Regions from separate parts of the Homo sapiens genome. Here region 2 is linked to region 1. Evidence: fine-mapped expression QTL. Tissue or cell type: whole blood. Region 1 holds a variant in brackets; the other region holds the start of a gene. All regions are shown on one strand. Distances are from middle to middle.

Region 1 (8,262 bases):
CATGAGCCACCATGCCCGGCTAATTTTGCATTTTTAGTAGAGAGGGGGGTTTCTCCATTTTAGTCAGGCTGGTCTCGAACTCCTGACCTCAGGTGATCTGCCCACTTCGGCCTCCCAGAGTGTTGGGATTACAGGCGTGAGCCACCATGCCAGGCTCTTTGCCTTCTTGACATTGAACTTGGACCAGTTTGATTTCTTTTAGATTGTTCCATGTTCTGTATTTGGCTGATTGCTTCTTTATGTTACTTATTTTAATTTATTTATATATCCCCTATATTCCAATTTCTGTAAATTGAAAGGTGGGCGTAAATGTTTGATTACATTCCAGTATAACATTTTTGCAAGAATATTTTATGAGTGAGTCTGTATATTTTGCCATTAGGACAAGTGGTAAAGTCTTGTTTTTAGTCAAACTAAGTTTGATTTTTTTTTATTAATGTTCCATATTTTATTTTTAAATTCACAACAGTTTATACTTAGTTTCCATGTCATTCTCAAGAAGAGAAGAAAATGTTTAAAATTCAGGTTGTTCATGAACTAAGTTTTGTAATCCTCAAGATTTTCAGTTTATTATGTTTTTCTGATGTAAGGTCTTTTTTATAAAAGAGACAGAGTCTCACTCTGTCAGCAGACTGGAGTCCAGTGGTGCGATTGTAGCTCACTGCAGCCTGGAACCACTGGGCTCAAATGATCCTCCTGCCTCAGCCTCCAAGTAGCTGGGACTACAGGCTCATGCCACCACGCCTGGCTAATTTTTGGTTGAGATGGGTCTTAATATGTTGCCTAGGCTGGTCTTGAACTCCTGGGATTATAGGTGGGAGCCTCCTCACCAAACCTTAAATGTCTCTTGTAACAAACATTTAAACTGCTTACATGCACTTAGAGGTGTGTATTACTCATTATTTTCTTTTATCAATTTTATGTGAGCCTGCTAAGAAAGTCTCGTTAGTTTCTACTCATTGTTTACATTGAATTTCAAATAGTTAAGGGACCAATAAGGAAACAGCTTTTGTTTACCTGAAAAACTTCATGAGCAAGGGTCACATTGTGGTTAATTTCAGTGCTTTCTTCATTTCCAATCTTCATTATAGAGCAATGGTGGAACAAAGCGGCAAAAGATATCCCATCAAAATTATATAGCCTATCAAAAGCAAGTTATTCGCCGAAGTATGCGACATAGAAAAGTTCGTGGTGAGAAAGCACTTCTCGTTTCTGCTAATCAGACGTTAAAAGAATTGAAAATTCAGGTGAGGGAAACATTTGTTCAAGTTTGCTCTGGACTTAAAAGGGCCTTTATGAATTCCTGCTTTCCACCTGTATTTACATATATGTATGTATCTGTGTTTTTTTCCAGAAGACTTAAAGTTTTCAAAATAGCCAAAAATCTTTTTGTGAAGATGAAAGTGAATTTTGGGTTCTGGAAACTTGGGCTGGTTCTGCAATAGCTTTCCAATAATGAGAAACGCTGGGAACCACTTAATTTGTCACATGTTGAGGTTGTGCCAGGATAACTGTTCTCTCACTTTATTGTGCTGTATGCTTTTCTTTGACCACTTAATAGGTATTGGAGGCTGTTACCAGGAACTGCTGTGAAATTTAATGGGAGATAAAAGGCAGCTTATTATTAGCGATTAGTGATTGCTTATTCACTAGGCTGTCACAGTATTTTTGGTGGCAGATAAATCTATTTGATAGATAGAGGGGGTTTTTTTTTTTTTTTTTTTTTTTTTTTTTTTTTTTGGTGAGACAGAGCCTCACTCTGTCACCCAGGCTGGAGTGCAGTGGTGCCATCTTGGCTCACTGCAACCTCCGCCTACCGGGTTCAAGCAGTTCTCTGCCTCAGCCTCCTGAGTAGCTGGGATTACAGGTGCGTGCCACCACACCCAGCTAATTTTTGTATTTTTAGTAGAGACAGGGTTTCACCATCTTGGCCAGGCTGGTCTTGAACTCCTTACCTCGTTTTCCACCCGCCTCAGCCTCCCAAAGTGCTGAGATTACAGGCGTGAGCCACCGCGCCCGGCCTTGATAGAGTTTTAAAATTATCTTTACCTTGATGTTTTCCAAATTGTTATATAGATTTATTTTAGATATGTCCTCTCCATCCCCCTCAAAGCATGCATTGCTTTACAAATCAGTTCCACGGCTGTAGTGCAGGCATTATGAAATGGTTTCATGATACTGTTATTTCTTGGTATCAATACTGAAGTACTATAAATAAGCATTCCAGTGGTAAATCTCAAACCCTAGGCAGAAGGAACTGATAAATTCAAGATGTCCATAAAAAATTCTGGCCCCTAATCTGTTTCAGTCACTGATAGATATCCAAAAAGTTGACCAAATTTCCTCCTTTGCTACTTTTATGTGGCATAGTTTACTGGTTACACATTTTTCTTGTTGCTGATATTTATCATTGTAATTGAGGCAAAAGTACAGGCCTTCCTTTGAGGGTGTTATGTATTCCAGATTGTCCTGACAACAGTATTTCCCTTGGTTGAACCCATGGCTCTGAAAATAAGTGTGTTGGCATAATATCTTTACTCTGTTATTGTACCTTTTACATCTAAGAAACCTTGTTTCTATCACTGGCTTTCTGCCTGTCATTGGGAAACCTCGAACATTCAAAACCTTTAAATTACAGAAAGAGCCCCTGTGCCTAAAGACATTTTTAAAAGCCTGTGCTGCTTTTATTATGGACTACAATTTTTGAAGAATAAACCAGAAGTCAGCAGAAATAACCCTTCCATCTGAGAGCATGTACCTGCCCGAATGAGCTGCTAGAAGATGGCAGCTGTTCACACAGCCCCCAGAGGTGCTCTTCCTGAATGTCTGTCTCATCTCCCACTCTTGCTTCAGGGACCACTGCGGGCCAAACAGAGTCAAAGAAAAGGCAGTAGAAGGTCTTTCCCCTCACTACATAGTGGTGGGAGCTTGTGAAGCTTCAACTAGATGTGAGCCTATTTGCCTGGCAGTGTGGATAGCATCAGAGTTTGTAAGGTTTGCTTGAAACATTACAAAGCTTGCTGTGTCTAATCAGTAATTCATCCACCTTTGATCCCATGAGGTTAATGAAGTACAATTTGTTCATTTCCTTTCTCAAAAGATGTGCAGTGTTTAGTTGTATTATTTCATTTTCCCAAAGATAGATCTTTAGTGGGTGGGTGGTATTGCCTGCCTGAGAAAGTAGAATATTTTGGCACAGAAGTGAAATGGCTGGCAGCTGAGGCGATCGCTTCTATATTTTCTTTTTTCAGCCCCACACAGCATCGCAAGCAGAGGAGAGCCACTCCCTGATAGCAACAGGGTTTTCATGGTTCCTGTTAAGTTCCATAGACCAGGAATGCCACATCTACTTGTTAAGCAGACCTCTATCGTGTTCTTTATACTGAAGCATTCTCCTAGCACTTAGAGTTTAAGGATTATTTTACCGTAGGCCTCCCTGCCTTGGTTGGCCTGTTCCATCTTCTCTCTAGAAGCGTGTGTTCATCTTTCATATTGACCCTTCTGTGAAACCTGTCTTGGCCCCTTTCATGGAACTGACTGTCCCCCTGTGCTCGCTAGATCCTGCACATACCTTCTGCTACCATCCTCACAACTTTGTTTTGACCTCACTCCTGGAAACCCCTCTAGGGCGGGATTATTCACTTTTATATTATCAACACCTAAAACAGTACTTGACACACGGTAGCTTCTTATTAAATGCTTCATTAGTTGTTGACAGCATCTCAGTGCCCTTGTCCGTTCTCAGAATATAATGTGTGAACGTCAGCCCCTTAGTTGTGGCACTTGTGTCTAGAGGTATTTGCTGTTTGTCCAGTTTCATAGGGTAGTACAAAAACACTTAGCATTTAGGGGCATGAACAAGCATTTTTACAGTCCAGCAGCTGTGACATTATCCATGTTAAGTTAGCATCACACACATCCACCGTAGCTCTGCTCAATCTTCATGGTTCCGGAACATTTGCTGGTGTAGGGCTGGATATGCCTCTGCTTGATGTTTGCATGCTGAGCTGGCTTGGATAGAACTGTCCTGTCAGTACTCCTGCTTATTGCTTCATGAAGACCATTGATGATGCCAGTGCACTTTTCATTGCTAGCCACAGATCTCTGGCTAGTCCATCCCTGCCTGCTTTTCAGGCGCTGATGTTCTTTTGAAAAATCCAGGTAAGATTCTGTCCCAGCAGTTAGGGAGGAGGCCAGTGCTGTTATCCTTGTTCTTATTTGTCTTTGGTGCGATTATTAAAATCACTTTTCTGGTCCCCATCACACTGGCCTGTCAAGCTCTTGGGCCCTGTTACACACACAGTTCAAGGTTGATTTGTGAGGCTCGTTTTGTCTTTCCACATCCAAAGAATAGAGTGCAGGAAAGGGCAGAATGGTTTTCCCATGACATCATGGGTGTTGGTGTAATATAAGATACATGTAATAGCATGCATTTTATGGGTAAGTTAAAAAGCATACTAATATGAATATTCTTGAACTTGTCTACCGAGTTAAGAATTAAAACAGTGTCATTGAAGGTTACCTGTGTTTGCCTGTCTGAGCCCAACTTCTTCTTGCCCTCCAGAGGTAAACATGACCCAGAAATGATAAAATTTAAAAAACAAACCTTTCTGAATTTGTAAAAACATTTAAATATTATGTATACCAGTATTTTGGAATGTATGTATGATTTATTTTTGAGATAGTGTCTTGCTCTTTCGCCCAGACTGGAGTGCAGTGGCGCAATCTCGGCTTACTGCAACTTCTGCTTCCTGGGTTCAAGTGATTCTCCTCCCTCAGCCTCCCAAGTAGCTAAGATCACAGGTGCATGGCACTATTCCCAGCTAAATTTTTGTATTTTTAGTAGAGATAGGGTTTTGCCATGATGGCCAGGCTGGTCTTGAACTCCTGACCTCAGGTGATCCACCTGCCTCAGCCTCTCAAAGTGCTGGTATTACAAGCATGAGCCACCACACTCATCTGGAAAGTATTTAATTTTTTTTTTTTTTTTTTTTT[TG/G]GAGATGGGAGTTTCGCTCTTGTTGTATAGGCTGGAGTGCAATGGCGTGGTCTCAGCTCACCACAACCTCCATCTCCTGGGTTCAAGCAATTCTCTGGCCTCAGCCTCCCGAGTAGCTGAGATTACAGGCATGTGCCACCATACTCAGCTAATTTTGTATTTTTAGTGGAGACAGGGTTTCACCATGTTGGTCAGGCTGGTCTCGAACTCCTGACGTGAGGTGATCCGTCCACCTCGGCCTCCCAAAGTGTTGGGATTACAGGCGAGAGCCACTGCACCCGGCTGTATTTAATTTTTAACACTTGGCCAGAACTGGGGTGGGGCATATGGTCCCTACCCTTCAGAAATTCATATTTTGCTTCCTAGAGACAAAACTCAGTCTAAGAATATGTGACAGTTCCAAAGGCTGAATTACATACCCCAGGCCATTTGCTAAAGGAATAAGAACAAAAGAGAGAATTTAAAGATGGTTTTAAGAAAGAATTTTGGGCCAGATGCAGTGGCTCATGCCTGTAATCTCTGCACTTCGGGAGGCTAAGCTGGGAGGATTGCTTGAGTCTAAGAATTCGAGACCAGCCTGGGCAACATAGCAAGACCTCATGTCTACAAAAATAAAAAATAAAAAATCCGCCAGACATGGTAGCACACATCTGTAGTCTCAGCCACTCAGAAGCCTTAGGTGGGAGGATCCCTTGAGCCTGGGAGTTCAAGGCTGCAATGAGCCATGATCGCGCCACTGCACTCCAGCCTGGGTGACAGAGTGAGACCCTGTCTCAACAACAACAAAAAAAAAAGAAAAAGAAAAAAGAAAGAATTTGGACTTGACTTGTTGATGAAAGGATATGGGGCCTGGGAAAGATGAGGTGACAGTGATGACCTTGCCCAAGCCTCAGAATAGCCATCAGCCCAGCCCCACTTTTTATTCATTTTATTTCCCCACACCTCCATCCTTGGGAAGCTGGTAAGGTAAGGAACAAACGCATCTATATGTGTAATTGTTTCCTAATACTCTACCAGACCTCTTAAGGATGTTCCCGGATATATAGGGACGATAGCCTCAGTAGGAGTATAACAAGTAGGCTGACTGTAAACAATAGTGGTTTTGTACTCTGAAGCCTTTTTTTTTTTTTTAAGAATCCATGCATAATTTATTTAAATAGGGTATAAGTCTTAGTATTTTGCATTATACGGACTTTCTCTCTTTTATATTGGCACAGATCATGCATGCATTTTCAGTTGCTCCTTTTGACCAGAATTTGTCAATTGATGGAAAGATTTTAAGTGATGACTGTGCCACCCTAGGCACCCTTGGCGTCATTCCTGAATCTGTCATTTTATTGAAGGTAAGTAAACAGCTCCTTAGCTGAAGAACTCAAGGTTTTACATGTTACATAACTATGTGTAAACTGTGTGAAATGGTGGTTAAAGGATGCCTTGGGTCTTTAGCAGAGGGTAGTGATAAATGACTGCTGTGGGTTTTTGCAGCTCAGCCCAACTCTGGCTGAGCCCCAGGAGACTTAGAGGAGGTCAGGACATCATCTATCTTGTTCTTGTGTGTTATAGTAGGTGATGTTACGCCACAGCATCAGCAACTGCTGGTACCCTGAGAAGGTGAAAGTGAAGGCTTTCCTTGGCCTTTCCTGGATCACCTAGATCAGTTTCTATGCCTTTGTGGGATCAGGGTACATCATTACTTTCCTGTTCCCTGGTAGGGCAGGGCAGTGGTATAAATCCCACTCACCCAACTGCTAAGCTCCACGCCTGATTTTTCCCATTTGATTTTCTGTCACAAGGGCCCCCATTCTTCTCCAGATACAGATCTAGTTTTCATTCCCCTCAGACTGGGAGGAAGGGAGTGATATTGGGTTGTGGCCCTCTGAGCACTGAGGATTGACTGTCATTCCAAAGGGGCAAGCTGAGTGATCTGGTCTCAGGTCACAAAGTTTCTGTGGTGTCCCCTCCCCAATGCCCTCCAACCCCCCGCCCCCCGCTTTTTTTTTTTTCCTTTTTTTGGACTAGATGGATCTGTTCTTAAAACCACACTAATGATACTGATGTCTGCAACTTAATTTGAAATGCTGCCCCCACAAAAAAAAAAAGCAAAAAATGGGTAGAAGATAGACTTGTGACCAATGCAAATAGTAACTTATTTTATACTTTAAAATCTATCTCTGCTGAGATTTTCATAGTTTTTCTTAGTTAAAAGTAGATTCAGCCTCCTCTGTAACTTTTTCCCTAACTTCCGGTTCAGCAGAATTACTTAACCATACGTCATAGTATTAAAGTATCTCCTCTTTTCCTTTTGGTTCAAAAGGACTAGCCAGCCAAGCTAGGAAACAAGGGTAAAACACAAGGTTCTGTCACAACAGTCAAAATACACGACTTAATGGGATTCTGTCCAAGGCATGGAAATTGGTTTTGGATTTAGTAGATGTAGAAAGTAGGGGCTTCTTCTTTTTTTTTTTTTTTTTTTTGAGATGGAGTCTCGCTGTGTTGCCCAGGCTGGAGTGCAGTGGCACAATCTCGGCTCACTGCAACCTCCACCTCCCAGATTCAAGCAGTTCTCCTGCCGCGGCCTCCCGAGTATCTGGGATTACAGGCGTGTGCCACCACACCCGGCCAATTTTTTGTATTTTTAGTAGAGACAGGGTTTCACCGTGTTGGCCAAGCTGGTCTCAAACTCCTGACCTCAGGTGATCTGCCCGCCTCACCTCCCAAAGTGCTGGGATTACAGGTGTGAGCCACTGCGCCAGGCCTCAGTGACTTTTCTTTGACAGTGTCTTAGAAGCCCCTACTTTCACTGGGCGCAGTGGCTCACCCCTGTAATCCTAACACTTTGGGAGGTTGAGGTGGGTGGATCATGAGGTCAGGAGTTCAAGACCAGCGTGGCCAGCATGGTGAAACCCCATCTCTACTAAATATACAAGAAAATTGGCCAAGCGTGGTGGTGGGCACCTGTGATCCCAGCTACTCGGGAGGCTGAGACAGGAGAATGGCGTGAACTCGGGAGGTGGAAGTTGCAGTGAGCCGAGATTGCGCCACTGCACTCCAGCCTGGGCAACAGAGGGAGACTCCGTCTCAAAAAGAAAGAAAGAAAAGTCATTGAACCAGCCTCATTTGCCCAATTCTACCCTCCCTAAGGGCCTAACTTAGTCGCTTCCCATTGCCTCTTTTGTTTCTTCTTGGCCAAAAGAATCCCTACTGTGCCGAATACCACCACATCATGTGGTAGAATCATTGTTCAGGTTTTTTATTTTGAACTGTGA
Region 2 (8,000 bases), 91 kb before region 1:
AAAGTAAAAATGGCCTTGCTGAGGATGTTAAATTTATGTTCAAGTGCTATTTGTTTTTTGTTGTTTTTTTTTTAGATGAAGTCTCGCTCTGTCGCCAGGCTGGAGTGCAGTGGCACAATCTTGGCTCCCTGCAACCGCTGCCTCCCAGGTTCAAGCGATTCTCCTGCCTCAGCCTCCTGAGTAGCTAGGACTACAGGCGTGTGCCACCATGCCCAGCTAATTTTTTGTATTTTTTGTAGAGACGGGGTTTCACCATGTTGGCCAGGATGGTCTTGATCTCTTGACCTCATGATCTGCCTGCCTCGGCCTCCCAAAGTGCTGGGATTACAGGTGTGAGCCACCGCGCCCGGCCGTAAGTGCTACTTCTTTACGGCACTGGGGAACAAGCATTTCTAACAAGATCCCCCAGGGAGTAAACAAAGTTAAAGGAGAGGTCCAAAGGACTGAACCCTAGGCCACTCAAGTTTCCAGGTTAGAGGAGAAAGAAGCTGCAAAGGACACCGGAAGGGATGGCCAGCAGTAAAGAGAAAACCAGGAGAGTGTGGCACCCTGTGATTTAAGAGAAGAAAGTGTTTCTAAGAGGAAAGAGTGAATAACTGGGTCAATTGCTGCTAACAGGTCTAGTAAAATAAATAGAGTATGAGTTTACCACTGCATTTAACAAGGTGAAGGCCATTGGCATTCTTCATACGAGCAGTTTTGGAGGTGATAGAGGCAAGAACCTGATTTGGGAGGTTTAAGGAGGAATAGGAGGAGAACTGGAGAAGAGTACAGAAAATGCTTTCCAGGAGTTTTGCTATAAAGGGAAAAAGAGAAATGGGACAGTAGCTGGAGGGGGATGTGGGAGTCAAGAGAGGGTTTGTTAAACTTCAGAGAAATTACAGCAAATTAGCACATTTGGGTTTTGTTTGTTTGTTTTTGAGACAGGGTCTCCCTCTGTCGCCCAGACTGGAGTGCAGTGGTGAGATCTCTGCTCACTGCAACCTCGACCTCCTGGGCTCAAGCAATCCCTCCACTTCAGCCTTCTGAGTAGCTGGGACTACAGGTGCCTACCACCACACCTGGCAAATTTTTGTATTTTTGTAGAGACAGGGTTTCACCATGTTGCCCAAGCTGGTCTCGAACTCCTGACCTCAGATGATCTGTCCACCTCGGCCTCCCAAAGTGCTGGATTACAGGCGTGAGCTACCGTGCCTGGCCGAAATCATCTTCTTTCTAAATCTGTTCCTTCTTCTGGTGTTGCTATCTCATTTGGTAGAAATTCTATTTAATTATCCAATTTAGAAAACTGCCATATAGTAGTGTCTTCATGGTGAATGATAGTCACAATTTCATCATGTGCTAAGTGAAGCAAGGGATGACACAGGGAGCTGTGGATACTGAGGAAAGGGGTGTGACCAGACTTGAAGGTCAAATATCAGAAAGGTGAAGATATACCGGTCAGGTCAACATCATCAAGCTGTAGCAAGTCCTCATTCTGTCCAAGGCGTTTGAACCAGAGTGACTCTATCTTGAATGGGGGCTGGGTAAAATAAGGCTGAGACCTACTGGGCTGCATTCCCAGGAGGTGAAGACATTTTTTTTGCCTGAGTTTCCCACCGTCGCCTGGGATGGAGTGCAATGCCACGATCTTGGCTCACTGTAACCTCCGCCTCCTGTTCAAGCAATTGTCCTGCCTCAGCCTCCTGAGTAGCTGGGATTACAGGTGCCCGCCACCATGCCTGGCTAATTTTTGTATTTTTAGTAGACCCAGGGTTTCACTATGTTGGCCAGGCTCATCTCGAACTCCTGACCTCGTGATCCGCCCACCTTGGCCTCCTAAAGTGCTGGGATTACAGGCATGAGCCACCATGCCTGGCCTAAGGCATTCTTAGACACAGGATGAGATAGGAGGTCTACACAAGATACAGGTCATAAAGACATTGCTGAGAAAACAGAATGCAGTAAAGAAGCTGGTTAAAACCCACCAAAACCAAGATGGCCATGAGACTGACCTCTGGTCGTCCTCACTGCTTATTATATGCTAATTATTATACGCTAATTATTATACATTAGCATGCTAAAAGACATGCCCACCAGTGCATGACAGGTTACAAATGCCATGGCAAAGTCAGGAAGTTACCCTATATGGTCTAAAAAGGGGAGGAGGCCAGGCGCGGTAGCTCACACCTGTAATCCCAGCACTTTGAGAGGCCGAGGTGGGCGGATCACCTGAAGTCCGGAGTTCGAGACCAGCCTGACCAACATAGTGAAACCCCGTCTCTACTAAAAAATACAAAAAAATTAGGCGGGCGTGGTGGCAAAAGCCTGTAATCCTAGCTACTTGGGAGGTTGAGGCAGGAGAATCGCTTGAACCCAGGAGGCGGAGGTTGCAGTGAGCCCAGACCACACCATTGCACTCCAGCCTGGGCAACAAGAGCAAAACTCCGTCTCAGGAAAAAAAAAAGTCTTCTCTGCCTCACTATACAAAATGCAAATCTCCATTATAGCACTCAACAGCTGTATATCTTCAGTGGGTACTTTGAATAAAGGTCTTCCTTTTTTTGTTTTTTTTTTTGTTGTTATTGTTGTTTTATTGTTGTTGTTATTGTTGTTTTGTTTTGTTTTTGTTTTTTTTTTGGAGACAGAGTCTCGCTCAGTCGCCCAGGCCGGAGGGCAGTGGCGCGATCTCCGCTCACTGTAAGCTCCGCCTCCTGGGTTCCCGCCCTTCTCCTGCCTCAGCCTCCAGAGTAGCTGGGACTACAGGCGCCCGCCACTACGCCCGGCTATTTTTTTTGTATTTTTAGTAGAGAGGGGGTTTCACCGTGTTAGCCAGGATGGTCTCGATCTCCTGATCTCGTGATCCGCCCGCCTTGGCCTCCCAAAGTGCTGGGATTACAGGCGTGAGCCACCGCGCCCGGCGGCAAGGTCTTCCTTTCAAGCCATAACTCTCACCTGTCCCTGTCTCAGAAATTGTGGCCCTCTCACGCCAAGCTTTTCTCTTCTGTGCCTTTGCTCCTTGTGGTTTCTTTTTTTCTGGAATGGTGTCTTTCTTCTATCCTGGATAAGTCCAACTCACCCGTTAAAAGCGGGCTTCGGAATTACTTCTGGGAAGCCTTTTCTCAAGTACCCCGAAGCCTCCCAAGACTGGGATGGGGATCTTTGTATTTCTACCGCTCACTCCCTAACCCACTTCCAAGGGCAGGGACCACATCTTACTTTCTTCTGCCTTCAGCGAATTTTTTTGTTTTTTTTGAGACGGAGTTTTACTCTTGTTGCCCAGGCTGGAGTGCAATGGCGTTATCTCGGCTAACCACAACCTCCGCCTCCCGGGTTCAAGCGATTCTCCTGCCTCTGCCTCCCGACTAGCTGGGATTACAGGCATGCGCGACCGCGCCTTGCTAATTTTGTATTTTTAGTAGAGACGGGGTTTCTCCATTTTGGTCAGGCTGGCCTCGAACTCCTGACCTCAGGTGATCCGCCCACCTCGGCCTCCCAAAGTGCTGGGATTGGATCCTTGAGCCACGGTGCTCGGCCCAGTGAATGTTTATCTAAAGAATTCAGCCTAAGGTTTTCCAGCAGGCAAGCAGCTGAGTCAGAAGTTAGCGCTTAGATTCTGGCAGAGCTCTAATTCAAATTCAAAATTCTTAAATATCCTCACTTTAGTAGAGTTCTTTACAGTTTGCAAAACAATTCTCATAAAGCTACTCTTTATGTCCTGGGGCAGGAGTCGCAGAAAGGAAATGTTTTAAACCAGGAGCTAGAGAGGAACTAGAAAATCCTGGCATAGAGGTAACAGTCTTGAGAAGGGAGCCAACAGCAAACATGACCTTGCGCACCAGAGAAACTCCACCCTGGCACCTCGGACCCCCGCCCGCACAGTCTGCGGCGCACTGAGCACTCCCACCTCGAAGACTACAAATCCCAGCATGCCTCACAGTCAGTGGCAGGACGCAGGGCATGCCGGGACACGTAGTCCCACCCTAGCACGGGAAAAGGCCGGAAGGTCCCATGACGTCAGGAGGGCTCGGGAAAGGGGTTCGGAACCGGTCTAGGCTCAAGTTAAATCTCCCTCTAAAGAGCCAACACTGGTTTCTTTGGCGACTCGGTTTCTACTCTAAACAGGTCCCGCTCCACAGTCTGGGCGGGCCTGTGTGTGCGTTGAGTAGCCTCTAGCGTGAAAACTTCATGGTTAAAAGGGAAGTACCGGAGGCAAGAAATAGCTTTCGAGGCACTGGTTTGTTAGAGTAGTGGTACGTAGTGCGCCGCCCTGAACGGGGGCTGAGACGCTGCTTTTCCAGAAGTGCCAGTGAGGACGTGGCAAGACCGCCTCGGACGTACGCTTCCTCTACCTCAGCCCGTCGGGTTAGGGGCGCGGGAGGCGCAGAGGCTGCTGGGAACGCGCATGCGCTCAGCGCGGCGGGGAGTCCACCTTTAACGTCCGCGGGCGCGGGGTGTGTCGGGTGTCGACGGCGGCGCTTTGCGGCCGGTCGTGCGGGTCGGGCGCGGGCGGGCGCGGCGGCAGTGGCGCGCACAGGTGATTGACTGGCCAGCTGCCTGAAGGAGCGCCAGGTCCTCCTTGCTGGCAGGTGGCGAAGCCCATTGGGGCGGCGGTGCAGACCGCGGCGGCGGCTGCGGCGGTCTGGCTCGGGAGGCGTTCCTGGGGCCAAGGCCATGGCCCCGCGGCTGCAGCTGGAGAAGGCGGCCTGGCGCTGGGCGGAGACGGTGCGGCCCGAGGAGGTGTCGCAGGAGCACATCGAGACCGCTTACCGCATCTGGCTGGAGCCCTGCATTCGCGGCGTGTGCAGGTGAGGCCCGCGCACCGCGCCTCGCGGGCTCCTCGCGCCGGACCTTGGAAAGCCCGGGCGGGGTAGGGGAAAGGAAGACGGCAGCCCTTTGCGTGCATTTGGGAGGCGCGGAGCCGAGCGAGGTGGAGTTTCCCCCTTTGCGCCGTCTGCGCGACCTGGGAAACGCAGGCTTCCCGGGCTGTGCGCGGAGGTGATGCTGGCCAAAGCACTTTAGGAAGGTTTGGGTTCCCATCCAGAAGATGGCGGTGGAGATGAAGGCAGGAGCTGAGAGCTTAGCAAGCGTTGATGGTTGGGGTATCTTGGCCACAGCACGGCTCTTTCGTTTGTAAAAAGGAACTTTTTGGAAGTGAGCTTCATCACAGTGTATCTTGTTGGTGTTGACACCGAAGGCCTGATCATCTTAGTATTATTTTTGTAGAGGGCAGCTTTAGAAAAAACTGTGGTCAGCCTACGTCATCGATACCCTGCACCCCCGTTGGCCTTCCCTCACTCGTTAATCTAGTATTTTTTTTAAGCCTTTCTTTGGTCGTTCTGGTTCGACACCAGTTTACCGAGTACCAAGTTTAAGCTGTGATAGTGCTGTCCTTCACGTCTGCGCCGCCCTTGAACTTTACCTTTCCTTAACCCCCTCATATAGATTGAATCCTTAGGCTTTGCTCCCGTTTATTCCCTTTTTTCCACCTTGTAACGCGGGAACTATAGTTTTTGTTTCAGAATGTTGTTGAAATTGACTTGGCCAAGCCGGGCATGCTCAGTAGCCGTCTTTCGGCAGGCATTTAGGAAATGCTTTCTGGAGTTTTTACATTCCGCTGGGGGATCCGGAAGGAATGGAAGTCATGGTCTCTGGCTTTGGAGCTTAAAGTCTAGTATGAGAAGTGAAATAAGTTAGGGAGTTTCTATAAAGCAAACGAATAAGTCCAAGCTCTGGGCGTCTGTCTCACAAGGAGGGTAAATCTGACTTTAACAGTAAGTTCTGGAATGTTTGAAGTCTGTGTATAATAGAAATAATCAAGCTTCAGTCAGTTTCTCAACGTAATTAGTTTCCAGACTAACCAAATAATGTAAACTACTAATAGTTCTGGTGGTTTTTGAGACAGGGTCTCACTCTGTCACACAGGCTGGAGTGCAGTGTCACGAGCTCGGCTCACTGCAACCTCCGTTTCCCAGGCTCAAGCGATCCTCCCACCTCGGCCTCCGGAGTAGCTGGGATTAGAGGCACGGGCCACCACGCCCGACTCAGTTTTGTATTTTTAGTGGAGACGGGTTTTCGCCATGTTGGCCAGGCTGGTCTCGAGCTCTGGGCTCAAGCGATCTGCCCACCTCTTCTGGGATTACAGGCGTGAGCCACCATGCTGGGCCAATTTCTGATATTTATTTATTTATTGAGACGGTGTTTCGCTCTTATTGCCCAGGCTAGAGTGCAATGGCGTGATCTCGGCTCACTGCAACCTCTGCCTCCTTGGTTCAAGCGATTCTCCTGCCTCAGCCTCCTGAATAGCTGGGATTACAGGCATGCACCATCATGCCCGGCTAATTTTTTTTTATTATTTTTATTTTTTGTATTTTTAGTAGAGACAGGGTTTCTCCATGTTGGTCAGGCTGGTCTCGAACTCCTGACCTCAGATAATTTGACCGCCTTGGCCTCCCAAAGTGCTGGCATTACAGGCGTGAGCCACCGCCCGCCAGGCCGATACTTTTTTTTTTTTCGAGACAGCGTCGTGAGACGCTGGATAAATTTAAAAAAATAAATTTTTAAAATAAAAATTTTAAAAGAAAAAAGAATAGGCCGGGTGCGGTGGCTCATGCCTGTAATCCCAGCACTTTGGGAGGCCGAGATGGGCGGATCACGAGGTCAGGAGTTCGAGACCAGCCTGGCCAGCATGGTGAAACCCCGTCTCTACTAAAAATACAAAAATTAGCCGGGGGTGGTGGCGGGCGCCTGTAATCCCAGCTACTGGGGTGGCTGAGGCAGGAGAACCCTGGAACCCGGGAGGTGGAGGTTGCGGTGAGCCGAGATCACGCCACTGCACTCCAGCTTGGGCAACAGGGCGAGACTCAGTCTCAAAAAAAAAAAAAAAAAAAAAATTATCTTATCTTGGCTCTGTATGCCCTGTATGTTCCGCCTCTAAATTTCCCTATTCTGGACATTTCATATAAATGGAATCCTAAAATACGTGGACTTTTGTGACTGATTTCCTTTACTTATGTATTTAAGGGTCATCCATGTTGTAGCATGTTTCAGCACTTCATTTCATTAAAAAAATACCTGGGAAATACATATGACAGTGTTTACCATTTTAAAGTGCACAATTCGGTGGGTTTCAGTACCTTTATAGTGTTGTACAACCATCACCACTGTCTGGTTCCAGAACTTTTCATTATCCTAAAAGGAAACTGAGCATCTGTTAGTCACTTCCCATTTTCCCCCCTCGCCCAGCCCCTGGCAACTGCTAATCTACTTTCTGTCTCTGGATTTCTCTATTAATATTTCATAGCAATGGAATTATACAGTACGTGGCCATTTGTGTCTGGTTTCACTTAACGTAATGTTTCCAAGGGTTATCCCTGCTGCGCATGTGTCACTACTTTATTCCTTACGGCTGAGTAGTATTCCATTTTATGGATAATACCACATTTTATATATCTATTCATCAGTTGAGGGACATTTTGATTATTTCCACCTTTTGCTTATTTTGAGTAGTACTTCTCTGAACATTTGCATACAAGTTTTGGTCTGAACATCTGATTTCAGTTCTTTACCTGGGAGTGGAATTACTGGGTCATACACAGTCAATTCTGTGTTTAACTTAACCGAACCGCGAAACTTCCACAGTGGTTGTACCGATTTACATTCCCACCAGTGATGTATGAGGGTTCAAATGCTTCATCATCCTCATAAACAGGTACTATTTTCTGTTTTTCTGGTTAGGCCCTCCTACTTGGGTGTGAAGTGATGCATCTTTGTAGTTTTGATTTGCATTTTCCTAGTGACTAATGAGTTCAGCGTCTTTTCATGTGCTCGTTGCCTCTTTTCCTTTTATTGATCAATAATATGCCATCATATCTCTGTATCTACCACATTTTTAATTTGCATTCATCTGCTGATAGACATTTGGGTCATTTCTACTTTTTGGCTATTATAATGTTGCTATGAACATTAGTGTAGTAGTTTTTGTGTGGGCATTTATTTTTATTTCTCTTGGTTATAGAGCA

Evidence for each region. PIP is the estimated chance that this variant, and not a neighbour inherited with it, causes the effect.
Region 2: USP48 starts here. The variant in region 1 is fine-mapped to the expression of USP48 in whole blood (INTERVAL, PIP 0.98).

What each region holds. Positions count from the first base shown.
Region 1 is chr1:21,688,051-21,696,312 of GRCh38, reverse strand. USP48 (ubiquitin specific peptidase 48) reads left to right here. Exons shown (of 27, transcript NM_032236.8): 23 at 1,092-1,247; 24 at 6,214-6,339. Among named protein-coding and RNA genes, the nearest start is that of RAP1GAP, 23 kb to the right of the region's middle. The variant TG/G (reference allele first, on the strand shown) is at 4,996.
Region 2 is chr1:21,779,611-21,787,610 of GRCh38, reverse strand. USP48 (ubiquitin specific peptidase 48) reads left to right here and starts at 4,462. Exons shown (of 27, transcript NM_032236.8): 1 at 4,462-4,787. The coding sequence starts at 4,654. RefSeq lists silencers at 1,777-1,951, 4,339-4,698 and enhancers at 4,079-4,128, 3,874-4,644, 5,069-5,168, 4,645-5,416, 5,729-5,778.